2 separate regions of the Homo sapiens genome follow, and region 2 is linked to region 1. A link means that fine-mapping ties the variant in region 1 to the expression of a gene that starts in the linked region. Tissue or cell type: testis. Region 1 holds a variant in brackets; the other region holds the start of a gene. All regions are shown on one strand. Distances are between the middles of the regions. Region 1 overlaps ANKRD44 (ankyrin repeat domain 44). Region 2 holds the start of ANKRD44-IT1 (ANKRD44 intronic transcript 1).

What was found. PIP is the estimated chance that this variant, and not a neighbour inherited with it, causes the effect.
Region 2: ANKRD44-IT1 starts here. The variant in region 1 is the best candidate, but not a certain one, in a credible set for the expression of ANKRD44-IT1 in testis (GTEx, PIP 0.65).

The regions. Positions count from the first base shown.
Region 1 is chr2:197,280,521-197,285,905 of GRCh38, reverse strand. The region is part of intron 1 of ANKRD44 (ankyrin repeat domain 44); the gene reads left to right. The region is part of intron 5 of ANKRD44-IT1 (ANKRD44 intronic transcript 1); the gene reads left to right. Among named protein-coding and RNA genes, the nearest start is that of ANKRD44-IT1, 19 kb to the left of the region's middle. The variant G/A (reference allele first, on the strand shown) is at 2,060.
Region 2 is chr2:197,300,547-197,305,931 of GRCh38, reverse strand. It overlaps ANKRD44-IT1 (ANKRD44 intronic transcript 1), which reads left to right and starts at 3,413. Exons shown (of 6, transcript NR_046837.1): 1 at 3,413-3,699; 2 at 4,519-4,969. All of the region lies in intron 1 of ANKRD44 (ankyrin repeat domain 44), which reads left to right. RefSeq lists enhancers at 1,008-1,137, 3,716-4,005.

The DNA.
Region 1 (5,385 bases):
TGGAAGGCCTGATTCTGATTTTGTCAGAGGGTTCCCAGAGGTGACCATATAGTGAAATCTGTTCTTTTTTTTCAGAATCTGACCCTATATCATTTTATTGATCTCTTTAAGCTTTGTACAGGTTCTTTGTCAACCATAATGAGGTTTTATGTTTTCTTTCCTTTTTGTTTTTCTGCAATCTGTCCAACCAAGGTTTATTTTGCAGGAATTTGTGACTGGGGGCATGCCTGAGATGAGCAAACGGTGCAAATCTTTAAGGCTGTGACACTTGGCTGTTAATAGCTTAAGAAGCTCTTGGTTGTAGGAGTAAGTCATAAAGCCACAAAAGGATTTAGCTTCTTGAGAAAGCAGAAATCTACTTAGCATTTTTATGAGAAAATGGAGTGACTCCTCCATTAGAGTCAAGCATTAAGGCTTCAGCGTCAACTAGAATATTTCCCATAGTTTGGCAAGTTGCCTTTTAACCCATGGCTTCCCACACCTGGAACCTGTTTCCTCTAGTTGCTCCATCGCAGGCAGGCTACTGTGTTTTGATCAGAACCCAGAAGAAAAGAACCTGGGATCTGGGTATCACAGGTAGCATTTTATAGCATCAGACATGTTCCAGTGACTAACTCTTGGCTGCCCCATCCCCAGACACTTTCCTGCAGTGGGTTGGGGCTGGGGAGGTTGTGGAGCTCACTGATGCACATTTTGCAGTTTGGCTCAATGGGTCCACAGGCCTTACATAACCTAAACTCCCTGACTTTTCATCACTTCCTGCAGAATGTGATGTGGGTGGGCTGAGGGATTCAAGTAGAGACTAGTGGGTGATACTTAAACTTGCTCAAAGGGAACATCTTTTAGGGAGCCTTCTAGAGTGCCACAAAATTGGGCTATGACTGTTTCTGCCATCTGAGAGAGGGCTATCACTCTTTCTATTATCTTAACAAGCAGAAGATATATTTCTATTGTAAGTAGTGAAGCTCTTCGTATCTTAACATTGAATAATGTAAAAAAAAATTTAATTTTTTTTTTTTTGAGATGGAGTCTTGCTCTGTTGCCCAGGCTGGGGTACAGTGGTGTAATCTCGGCCCACTGTAACCTCTGCCTCCCGGGTTAAGGCAATTCTTGTGCCTCAGCCTCCCCAGTAGCTAGGATTACAGGTGCACACCACCACACCTGGCTAATTTTTGTATTTTTAGTAGAGACGGGGTTTCACCATGTTGGCCAGGCTGGTCTCGAACTCCTGGCCTCAAGTGATCCACCCACCTAGGCCTTCCAGAGTTTTGGGATTATAGGCATGAGCCACCACGCCTGGCTCTAATAATGTAAAAATTTTAATGAGTCATATTTCTAGAATTTTGTTTAAACACACAAATTATGTGTGTGTGTGTGTGTGTGTGTGTGTGTGTGTGTGTGTTTGACTCTCTGTTGCCGTGAGTTCTTGTTTGACCATGTGGTGGTATGTGCTAGGGTTTGGAGAAATTAATGGGAAAAAGAGTATATGTCACATTTAAGTAGTTTTTTTCCTTCTAAGAATTGGGAAAAGGCCTCCATTGTTTGATTTTCATGGTGAGGCAACTTGGACCTGGTCATAGAACATGAATGTCCTGAGGGATGATAGGGAATGCAGCGAATACCCAGAGAAATCCTGTTAGCCTGCCAGAGGCGGGAGTGACCCTCATTTCTTCATCTCCTTGTGCAGTTCTTCAATGTTCTTTGCAAGTGGATTTCACTAAAGTGAGTTCTGTCTATTAATGTCAATAGGTATAGATGTCTTTCCATCTTATCCATAACGTGGAGAAGATGCAATATGCCTCATAAATATTTCCAGGAACAATGTTCCTTTTATTTCAGTAAATTAGAGGTCAGCACCCTATTCATAGATAGATCCAGCAAACGGGGAGAGGAGACAGTAGTTAACAGTGTTCATTCTTCTACACAATCTCTCTGTATCTGGTACCTCGTGCCTAGTTAAGTAACTGAATACTGATATCACTGAGCTATTCTTTAAAATAATGCAGTGTTAGAAAGCCTTCCATACCAAAATTCAAACCCCTCCTTTATCAGACATTGC[G/A]CTAGACTACTCAAGCCTAACATAGAATAGTTCCCAAGCTTTACTCCCTGCCCCCATTTATTGCTTCTTTATGCTACAAACATGATTGCAAGAGGGAAAATGTAATTTTTAAAATTCACTTTGGTAAAAGGGATTCCAATGATTTCATTACCACCTTAAACTTTTGTGAAAAAAAAACAACTCATCACTTTAAATTATTGAAGTGTATATTTAACCATTATTGTCATCCAGGTACACTTTCAACAGTTTTGTTTCTATTAAGGCTGTAATTATTTTATAAGGAAACATTAAATATTTACCATAATTAAAGAGACATGCTGGCATTTGTTTCACTATTTTTTACTTGAATTGCTTTATATAGAAACTTATGGAATTGCTTTATATGGAAATTGCTTTATATGGAGATTCATACTGAGATTTCAGTAGAGCAGGTATTAAAAGATGTATCCAGGGGCTCTGCCGAGAGACTGGCATGAAGGTTAATAGAACTCAATAAATATTTATTGGTTGAAAAATGAATTACATTCCATTTTGTTTGTCCCTAGGGGATTTTATCATAATGGGCTTTAAAAAATTTAATAGGTTTTGCTATAATAAAATATAACCAGTACAGTATGGTGTCACTTGTCTTGTGCTGGACAAGGGTAACCAAACTCAGAGACATCAACTTCTCTCTCCAGCCTCCACATCCTGGTGAGAGAAACTAACCTATCCTGTGGGTCAGTGAGAATCTAAGTGAGGCTTAGAAGCTTATACAAACATACATATCTATAAAAGCATTCCTATGATGTTCTCTTCTCTTAAAAACTCTTCCAGAGACTCTTCTAAAGGAATTTAAAATACAAGTTTCTGAACAGATATAGAATACCATTAGTTCACTGGCCAAGTAATAATCCACAGGCTGGTATATTTTAAATTCATAACAGTGTACTCTGTGCCTACTAAGGTAGAGAGGACACCTCCCGGATTCAAATGATCCTCCTGCCTCAGCCTCCTGAGTACCCGGGATTACAGGCACATGTCATTATGCTGGCCAATTTTTGTATTTTTAGTAGAGATGGGGTTTCGCCATGTTGGCCAGGCTGGTCCCGAACTCCTGGCCTCAGGTGATCTGCTCGTCTTGGCCTCCCAAAGTTCTGGGATTACAAGTGTGAGCCACCACACCCGGCCTGGAGGGATTAAAGTTTTTAGTATAAAGAACACTGTAGTATGGAAAGACCCTGTCTCAAAAAAATAAAATAAAATCCCCAACTTCAAGCATCTTCTCTGTTTCACCTCTCAACATCCCAGGGTGGCCCTCAGATCTGCCATAGACTCCTAAGTCCTCATCACACCACATCAAAACCATTCCAACAGCCCCAACTGGAGCTCTCTAAAGTACCTTATATCCAAATGCCAGGCTCATCTTCAAACACTTAAACACACACCGCCTCTCAGACCAGCCTGTTACTATAAACTTCTCAGTCTGGCATTCAAGACATACATACGCCACCAAGCCTTTTAATCTTTCTCCAAAGACTCCAAGAAAAAAAAAAAGAAAACATAATGGCAAAACACAGTAGACACTGTAGTTACTATATATATATATTTTTTTGAGACAGAGTCTTGCTGTGTCACCCAGGCTGGAGTGTAGTGGCATGATCTCCGCTCACTGCAGGCTCTGCCTCCCAGGTTCACGCCATTCTCTTGCCTCAGCCTCCCGAGTAGCTGGGACTACAGGTGCCCACCACCATGCCTGGTTAATTTTCTGTATTTTTAGTAGAGACGGGGTTTCACCTTGTTAGCCAGGATGGTCTCTATCTCCTGACCTCGTGATCTGCCCGCCTCGGCCTCCCAAAGTGCTGGGATTACAGGTGTGAGCCACCACGGCTGTCCTGCAGTTACCATATTTATACCAGAATCATCTTACGTGGCTTCAGACAGAACACTAATTTTACATTAACACCTACCAACCAGCCTCACAATATAAAAAGTTCACTGTGGATTTAAACAAGATTTAAACTTCTCTTCCACTGCTGGGAAGAAAATGAGGGAAAGTTATAAGCAAGAAAGGAGCAGTTTTAAATTTCTGGGAGGATTTTAGGGTAATATATAGATTTTTAATTCCAAGGAAAAAATTTGCCTGTATTCCTTTAATAGAGGAAATGCAGTAAACGTCACCTTATTACATTATCTGCCAAAATACAGTTGGCAAGTTAGCAACATCATTTCCTCATTTTCCAAACACATCTGCTGATAGATTCATCAAAAGAGGTACTTTACTCCCTGTTGCTGATTTTGTAAATTACCAGGCCCAAAAAGGAGATATGATGTAAATTACTCAGGGACTTATGCCTTATACAAGGACTGACGATGTTTTTTCAGTTTAAGCTAAGTTACTCCCATTTTGCCAAGAAGAAAATGGACAGAGAGTTGGACAACTACCTACCAAAAAGGTCTGGGATGTTGTTTCTTTGCCAGATTGAGAGGTTAGGGAAACTAAAGCTTGTTGGTGATGGGGGGTGGGGGATGGAGGATCAGGAGGTGGGGAGCAGGATGCCTTAATGGAATTTACAATATTGAAATATCTATTTTTTCTAGAGAAAATAAAGCATCAGGCCTCCTATCAACAGGCATGTAACATGTTCATTTGGTATAAGATCATCTCCCAAAGTCCCTCCAAAGATGGACAGGCATTTATACCTACTGACATTAATAGACAGAACTCACTTTAGTGAAATCCATTTGCAAAGAACATTGAAGAACTGCACAAGGAGAATGAACAAATGAAGGTCAGTCAGGACTCTGGCAGGTTAACAGAGCAAGACATATCTCAAAAAAAAAAAGCAGAGCTTAAGATTTTAATATAAAGAACATTCTAGTGAAAGACTGTTTATTTTAAAAATTATTTTTATTTTATTTTCTTTTTTGGGCCCCACTGACCAGACTCCAGAAAGACTGTTTTTTAAGTAAAGACAAACAACATCTTAGTTGGAGAGGTTTAGCTAGACAGTAGTGAGATGGACTACTGGGAGAAAAAGACTAAATATGTTGGGAATTGAGTGGTAACATGTGACTTTAATTGGTGAAAGAGGTCTGTTCATTAGTAATTGACCACTGTGGGTAGCTGGTTTATCAAGGGGTAATAATACTCTTTGATGGGCTTTTACATTTTCAGCAATCAAGTTCAGTAGTACAATCCCTAGTCCGCCAAAATCTCATCCGCGAGGCTTATCAAGACCGTGGCTATTGTACAGCGGTTGCTCAAGCATCCCACACTTGGCTCCTCCATCTCCACATAATTTGTCCTGACAGATCTTAGACCACGGAGTCAGCTTGGGATCTCT
Region 2 (5,385 bases), 20 kb before region 1:
TAGATGAGCAAACCAAAAAATTTTAAAACCATCTGAAGCCTGTATACTCAAGAGATAACTATTCTTGACATTTTGATATGTTTCCTTCTAGTCTTCTGTCTGGGTAGCCAGTTAAAATTTTTAAACTTTTCGTGTGATAATATCATTACCTTTCACTTGTGCACATAGCTGATATCTGTGTTCTCTACACCAATGACTTTTCCAAATAAACTTATTCTTCTCTTACATATATGATTGGCTCTTTAGCCAACGCCAGCACATAAGCTCTAGCTCTGGATTAATGGAACTAACTTTTTTCTTTTTCTTTTCTTTCTTTCTTTCTTTTTTAAGATTTCAACTTTTTACTTCCTCTTTTGCTGTAAACAGAGAGCAAATACGAACTCAAAAAGGCACAAATTGTTTGTACCAGAAACAGAAATGAAAGATTCTTTAAAAAGATTTGTATTTCTACAAGATAATGTGAATTTTTATAGGCTAAAGTATAGCACGAAATAATTTAAAAACAGGCAGAGCTACAGAGATCTGATAATTTTGTGATTTCCAAATTTGTTTAAGCTATGACACTCCTTTTTTCCCCCGAAGAAATTTCATATTGAAGCTCAATATATAAAAAAGATTGGCTTGGACAGTGGTCCCTGAGTCCCTCTTGAAAACTGGTTGGGTTTAGTATTATTTGAAAGCCCCTTTGTATGAGAAAACTCCTGGTGATTGGTTAAGTGTTTTTTGTTGTTGTTTTTGTTTTTTTTCCTGACACATCATGTATGAAACAACATTTATAAATGTTTGTGAATGATTAGGAACTACACAGAACTAGGATGACTATATCATTTTTATCCGTTTGAGAATCATAGGTGATACTACTCAATATGAAGCCACAAATAGACGTGAGCCAGGACTGTCCTGGGTAAACCTGGATATGTGGTCATCATATATTCACATAGACTCCATGTTTGCTCACCACAGGCTTGACAGTGACAGTAAACTAGTTTGACTAGCAGACTACTCTGTCTCTTTTGAGTCAGGTCTACAGTGGTGCAGGTATTACAAAGATTGTTTTATGACCTTGTGCAGAGTTGGGAAACAGCTTCCATGTCACACATGAGTTCTGATCGGTCCAGGACTTGCAGGTGTAATGTGATAGAAACATTCTGACTCTTGCAGTCAAGGATCCGAGAAAGTGTGATTGATTACCAGTGTTTGCTATGGGTACACGGGAAGGGAGAAGTGACATATGTTGTACATTAGCCAACCCTTGGCAAGACATGTTAACCTCTGTAGGCTTCAGGTTTCTCTTTGTAAAATGAAGAGGTTGGACTGGATGCCTTTATGGTGCCTCAGCTCTGCCCTCTCCCTTCTGTGACTTGGTGCCTGTAATGGAGACCGATGCTCTTCACATGGTTTGTGTTATAGCATTTCTTACAAATGTGCCTATGAAGGGTGTATTTGCAGATGAGCTCTAATAAGGCTTTCCAGGTAACAAAGTCAAACAGCTTCAAGTTCCAGAGAAGGATTTTAACCCATGTCAATGACTTAGGACTAATTCCTATTCTCCACCCTACTTCAATTCATAGATAATCTAAGATTACCCATTTTATTTATTCTGTATTTTTATTTTTTTGGGACAGAGTCTCGCTCTGTTTCCCAGGCTGGAGTATAGTGGTGCAATCTTGGCTCATTGCAACCCCCGCCGACCCCCTCCTGGGGTTCAAGTGATTCTTGAGCCTCAGACTCCCGGGTAGCTGGGATTACAGGCTTGCACCACTACGCCCAGCTAATTTTTGTATTTTTAGTAGAGATGAGGTTTCACCATGTCGGCCAGGCTGGTCTCAAACTCCTGGCCTCATGTGATCTGCCTGCCTCAGCCTCCCAAAGTGCTGGGATTACAGGGGTAAGCCACCACACCTGGCCTAAGATTGCCCTCTTTATAGATTACTCCTTTTTAACCTTTTAACCAATATATTATTTGGCTTTGGCTGCTTTCAGAGGTCGGGAATGCAGGTATTTGCCCTTATCAGTGTTTATGTTTGTAAATATGTTGGTAGCCTAAGAGGTTGAAATTAATGATTCATGAATCCAGCTTGTAATTATGATATTCATAATTTTTAAGGATCTTTTCACTTGCCTCCTCTTTTGAAAACTTAAAATTTATATTCTATAAAGTGAGCTAAGCAAATAAATATATAGTCCACTTTGGGCTGTTTCAGGGATTACTAAGTCGATAATTGTTTGCATTTCTTGGTTTTTGTTTGCTTAGAGTCCCCTTGCTCCCATCCTGGGGAGTCTTAAGCATCCAAGCATAGCTTTCTAGGATATCTTTTATACCAGAAGACCATTTTCCCCTAAGAAAGCTTTCAGAGCTTTTAGTAAAATTAGGGAGACTTGTGGAAACATCTGTTTGAGCCTAGACATGGAAATTAATTACAATTCTAACCTGTCTCTAAAAGTTTTGCTTTTTTTATTTAAAAAATTTTGTTTTGCTTTAGTTTGTTTTAAAAATAACACTAGATTGGGAATCAGAAGACGTGGATTCTACTCATGGTTCTTCTAACTGTTGTATGGTTTGGGGTAAGTCCTGGCCTTCGTTTCTTTGTCTGTCAAAATGGGAACAGGTAGAAAATTCTCTAAATTCTTCCAAGCTCTAACATTCTAAGATAGCTCCTCACATATTTCAATGTCAGTCTTTTCTCATCTTGTGGAATCTCAGTTCAAAAAGTATCTGCCTTTTATGAACTTCTGATTTTCTCCCAAGTGTGTTTGTGGCAGCTTTAAAGTTTCCCAGGTTTGGTAAACACATCCTGAGTTTTGTCTAAGGGTGAGGAGTCCTTTCTCCAAGAAGTTTGTCTTCTGGCATCTCCAGGAGCCTGGCTGTGGGGACACAGAACCCCTGGGGCTGTTCTCAGTGTGGTTCTTTGAGAATCCTCTTGAACTTCTTACAGGATAAAGGGAGCAATCCTTACAAAGGCCATGCTTGTCTCTTGTGAGCTGGGGCCCACCTTAGCCTTCTTCAGAGGTGTTGCTTTAGCAAATACCTTGGGTCCTCCCAGGCAAAATCCTATTTTATTGAACCCAAATAACATGTGCATCTAACAAGTTTATTTCTGAAGGGTTGGCCCAGAGTTGGGTGCAGTTGACATGGTGACCACAGACTTTCTCAAGAAAGGAAGAAAATTCCTACATGTAATCACCAGCCTCTGTATGGTTAGTCTCTGTGGAGGAGACTTGTTTTGGTGTCTAAGACTGGCAAGATCAGGAAAAAGGAAAGTGAGCATAAGAGAAGTCTAAAGACAGAAAGCCAGGCAGACATTCAGGTCAGCCGGGACAAATCAACCAACCAATTATTGTGAAACAATGGCCTCCAAAAGTAGGTGTGGCCTACACCCCAAGGATGAACACAATACTTTATTGAGTTGGAGTTTGGGAAAGAGAATATTGGAATTCATATTTCTTTAAATCATTCTTTTAAACTTTTAATTTTTATGTAGTTTTAGTACATCTTATTTGCTAGTACTGTGTCATCTTTTTGGCTGTATTTTTCACTGGCTGCCACCTGGCCAAATCACCACTTGGGTTATAACAGCAGCCTCTGACTGGTCTCCTTCCGTCTGACCTTGGCCCCTGCACTCTACTCTCAACGTAGCTCTCAGAGTGATGGAACTCAGAACTTGTCACTCCTGCTCAAAAACTTCCAGTTTCACCCAGGTGAAAGCTAAGGTCATTAGAGTGACCTCTGCACTCAGCTCATCCACTCAACTGTCCAGCCTTGTCTGCTGTCCACCTCTTCCTGGCTCCTTGGCTCCAGCCCCACTGGCCTCCTCCTATTTAGTGAACACACCAGCTGCGCTCCTGCCTCGGGACCCTTGCTGTTCCTGCTCCCTGTGCAGCTCCTCCCTAGATATCTGCATGGCTCACCTTTACCTCTTTCGGGTCTTTCCTCAGATGTTACCTTCTCAGTGAGTCCCTTTCTGACCACACTATTTAAAATGCCCACTCCACATTTCCTGTCTGCCTTTCTTTATTTTCCTCCACAGTGTAAATCCCTCATACCATATATTTGACTCCCCCCATTTTAAAAACCAAAACTTACATGTGGCTAAGATATAGATAACAGGACAAAGATTATTTTGTTAGTTTGGTTCATTCACTGCTGTGTCTTTAGCACTTAAAACAGGGTAAGGTGCATAGTAAATGCTCAATAAATATTTGTTAAGTGATTGAATATAAATATGTATATGTATCTGTATATGTACATGTTCAAATGTTTTTTACTCATGAAGTACTCAAACAAAGAAAAGAGAAACACTTCTATAAACAGCTTTCATTTTACACTGGGATGTCAAATTTCCATTCAAACAAAATTAAGAGAAAGTTTTCTGCCCTATGAAAAGATAAAAGATCACATATTGTCCTATTTTCTGGTTATATTTTCCCTCTTTTTAAACTGTGCTTTTGGTTGTGAGGATGGTTAGCACTGTAGGTAATTCTCAGTCGTAGGTAATTCTCAGTTCCATTTCTTTTCAGGGGAAGTATCAAGGTGACATGAGGGGACAGGAAATATTGTCCCTAAATGTTCTAAGAGTGGATCTCCCATGTATTCAAGCAATCGAGGGGTGTTTAATGAGCTCCATCTACATAGCAATGATACAGCATAGCTCTGCTGGGGCTCTCTGCTCTCCCCTTCTCCACAAAAGGGAAGGACAGGTAAGAACAGGCACAATAAAATAGAAACCAGACAGAAAGAATTGGGAACAAGGAGACAAGACAAGAATCATGCTTTACGTGATTTAATCCTAATATTTTTATGAGAGGATGGCTATCATCATTTCATTTTAAAGATGAGGAAAATGAAGCCGGGTGCGGTGGCTCATGCCTGTAATCCCAGCACTTTGGAAGGCCGAGGAAGATGGCTCACCTGAGGTCAGGAGTTCGAGACCAGCCTGGCCAGAGAGATGGCCAGAGATGGCTAGAGATGGTGAAACCCCATTTCTACTAAAAATACAAAAATTAGTCAGGTGTGGTGGCAAGCACTTGTAATCCCAGCTACTTGGGAGGCTGAGGCAGGAGAATTGCTTGAACCTGGGAGGACGAGGTTGCAGTGAGCCGAGATTGTGCCATTGCACTCCAGCCTGGGCGACAAGAGTGAAACTCTGTCTCAAAAAAAAAAAAAAAAAAAAAAGGAAAATGAAAACTGAGAGGTCGAGTAATTTTTTTCAGGGTCGCATGACTCTGGGAGTCACATCTGGGCAAGCTCAACTCCAAGGTGCACATTCTTAGCCATCACACATTAGGATTCTTGAAATAGGTGCAGTATCACAAGAGGCCTTTTTCCCCATGGAGCTCACAGTCTAGTTAGATGATACTGAATGCCTTGCACATGAAAGGCCCTCT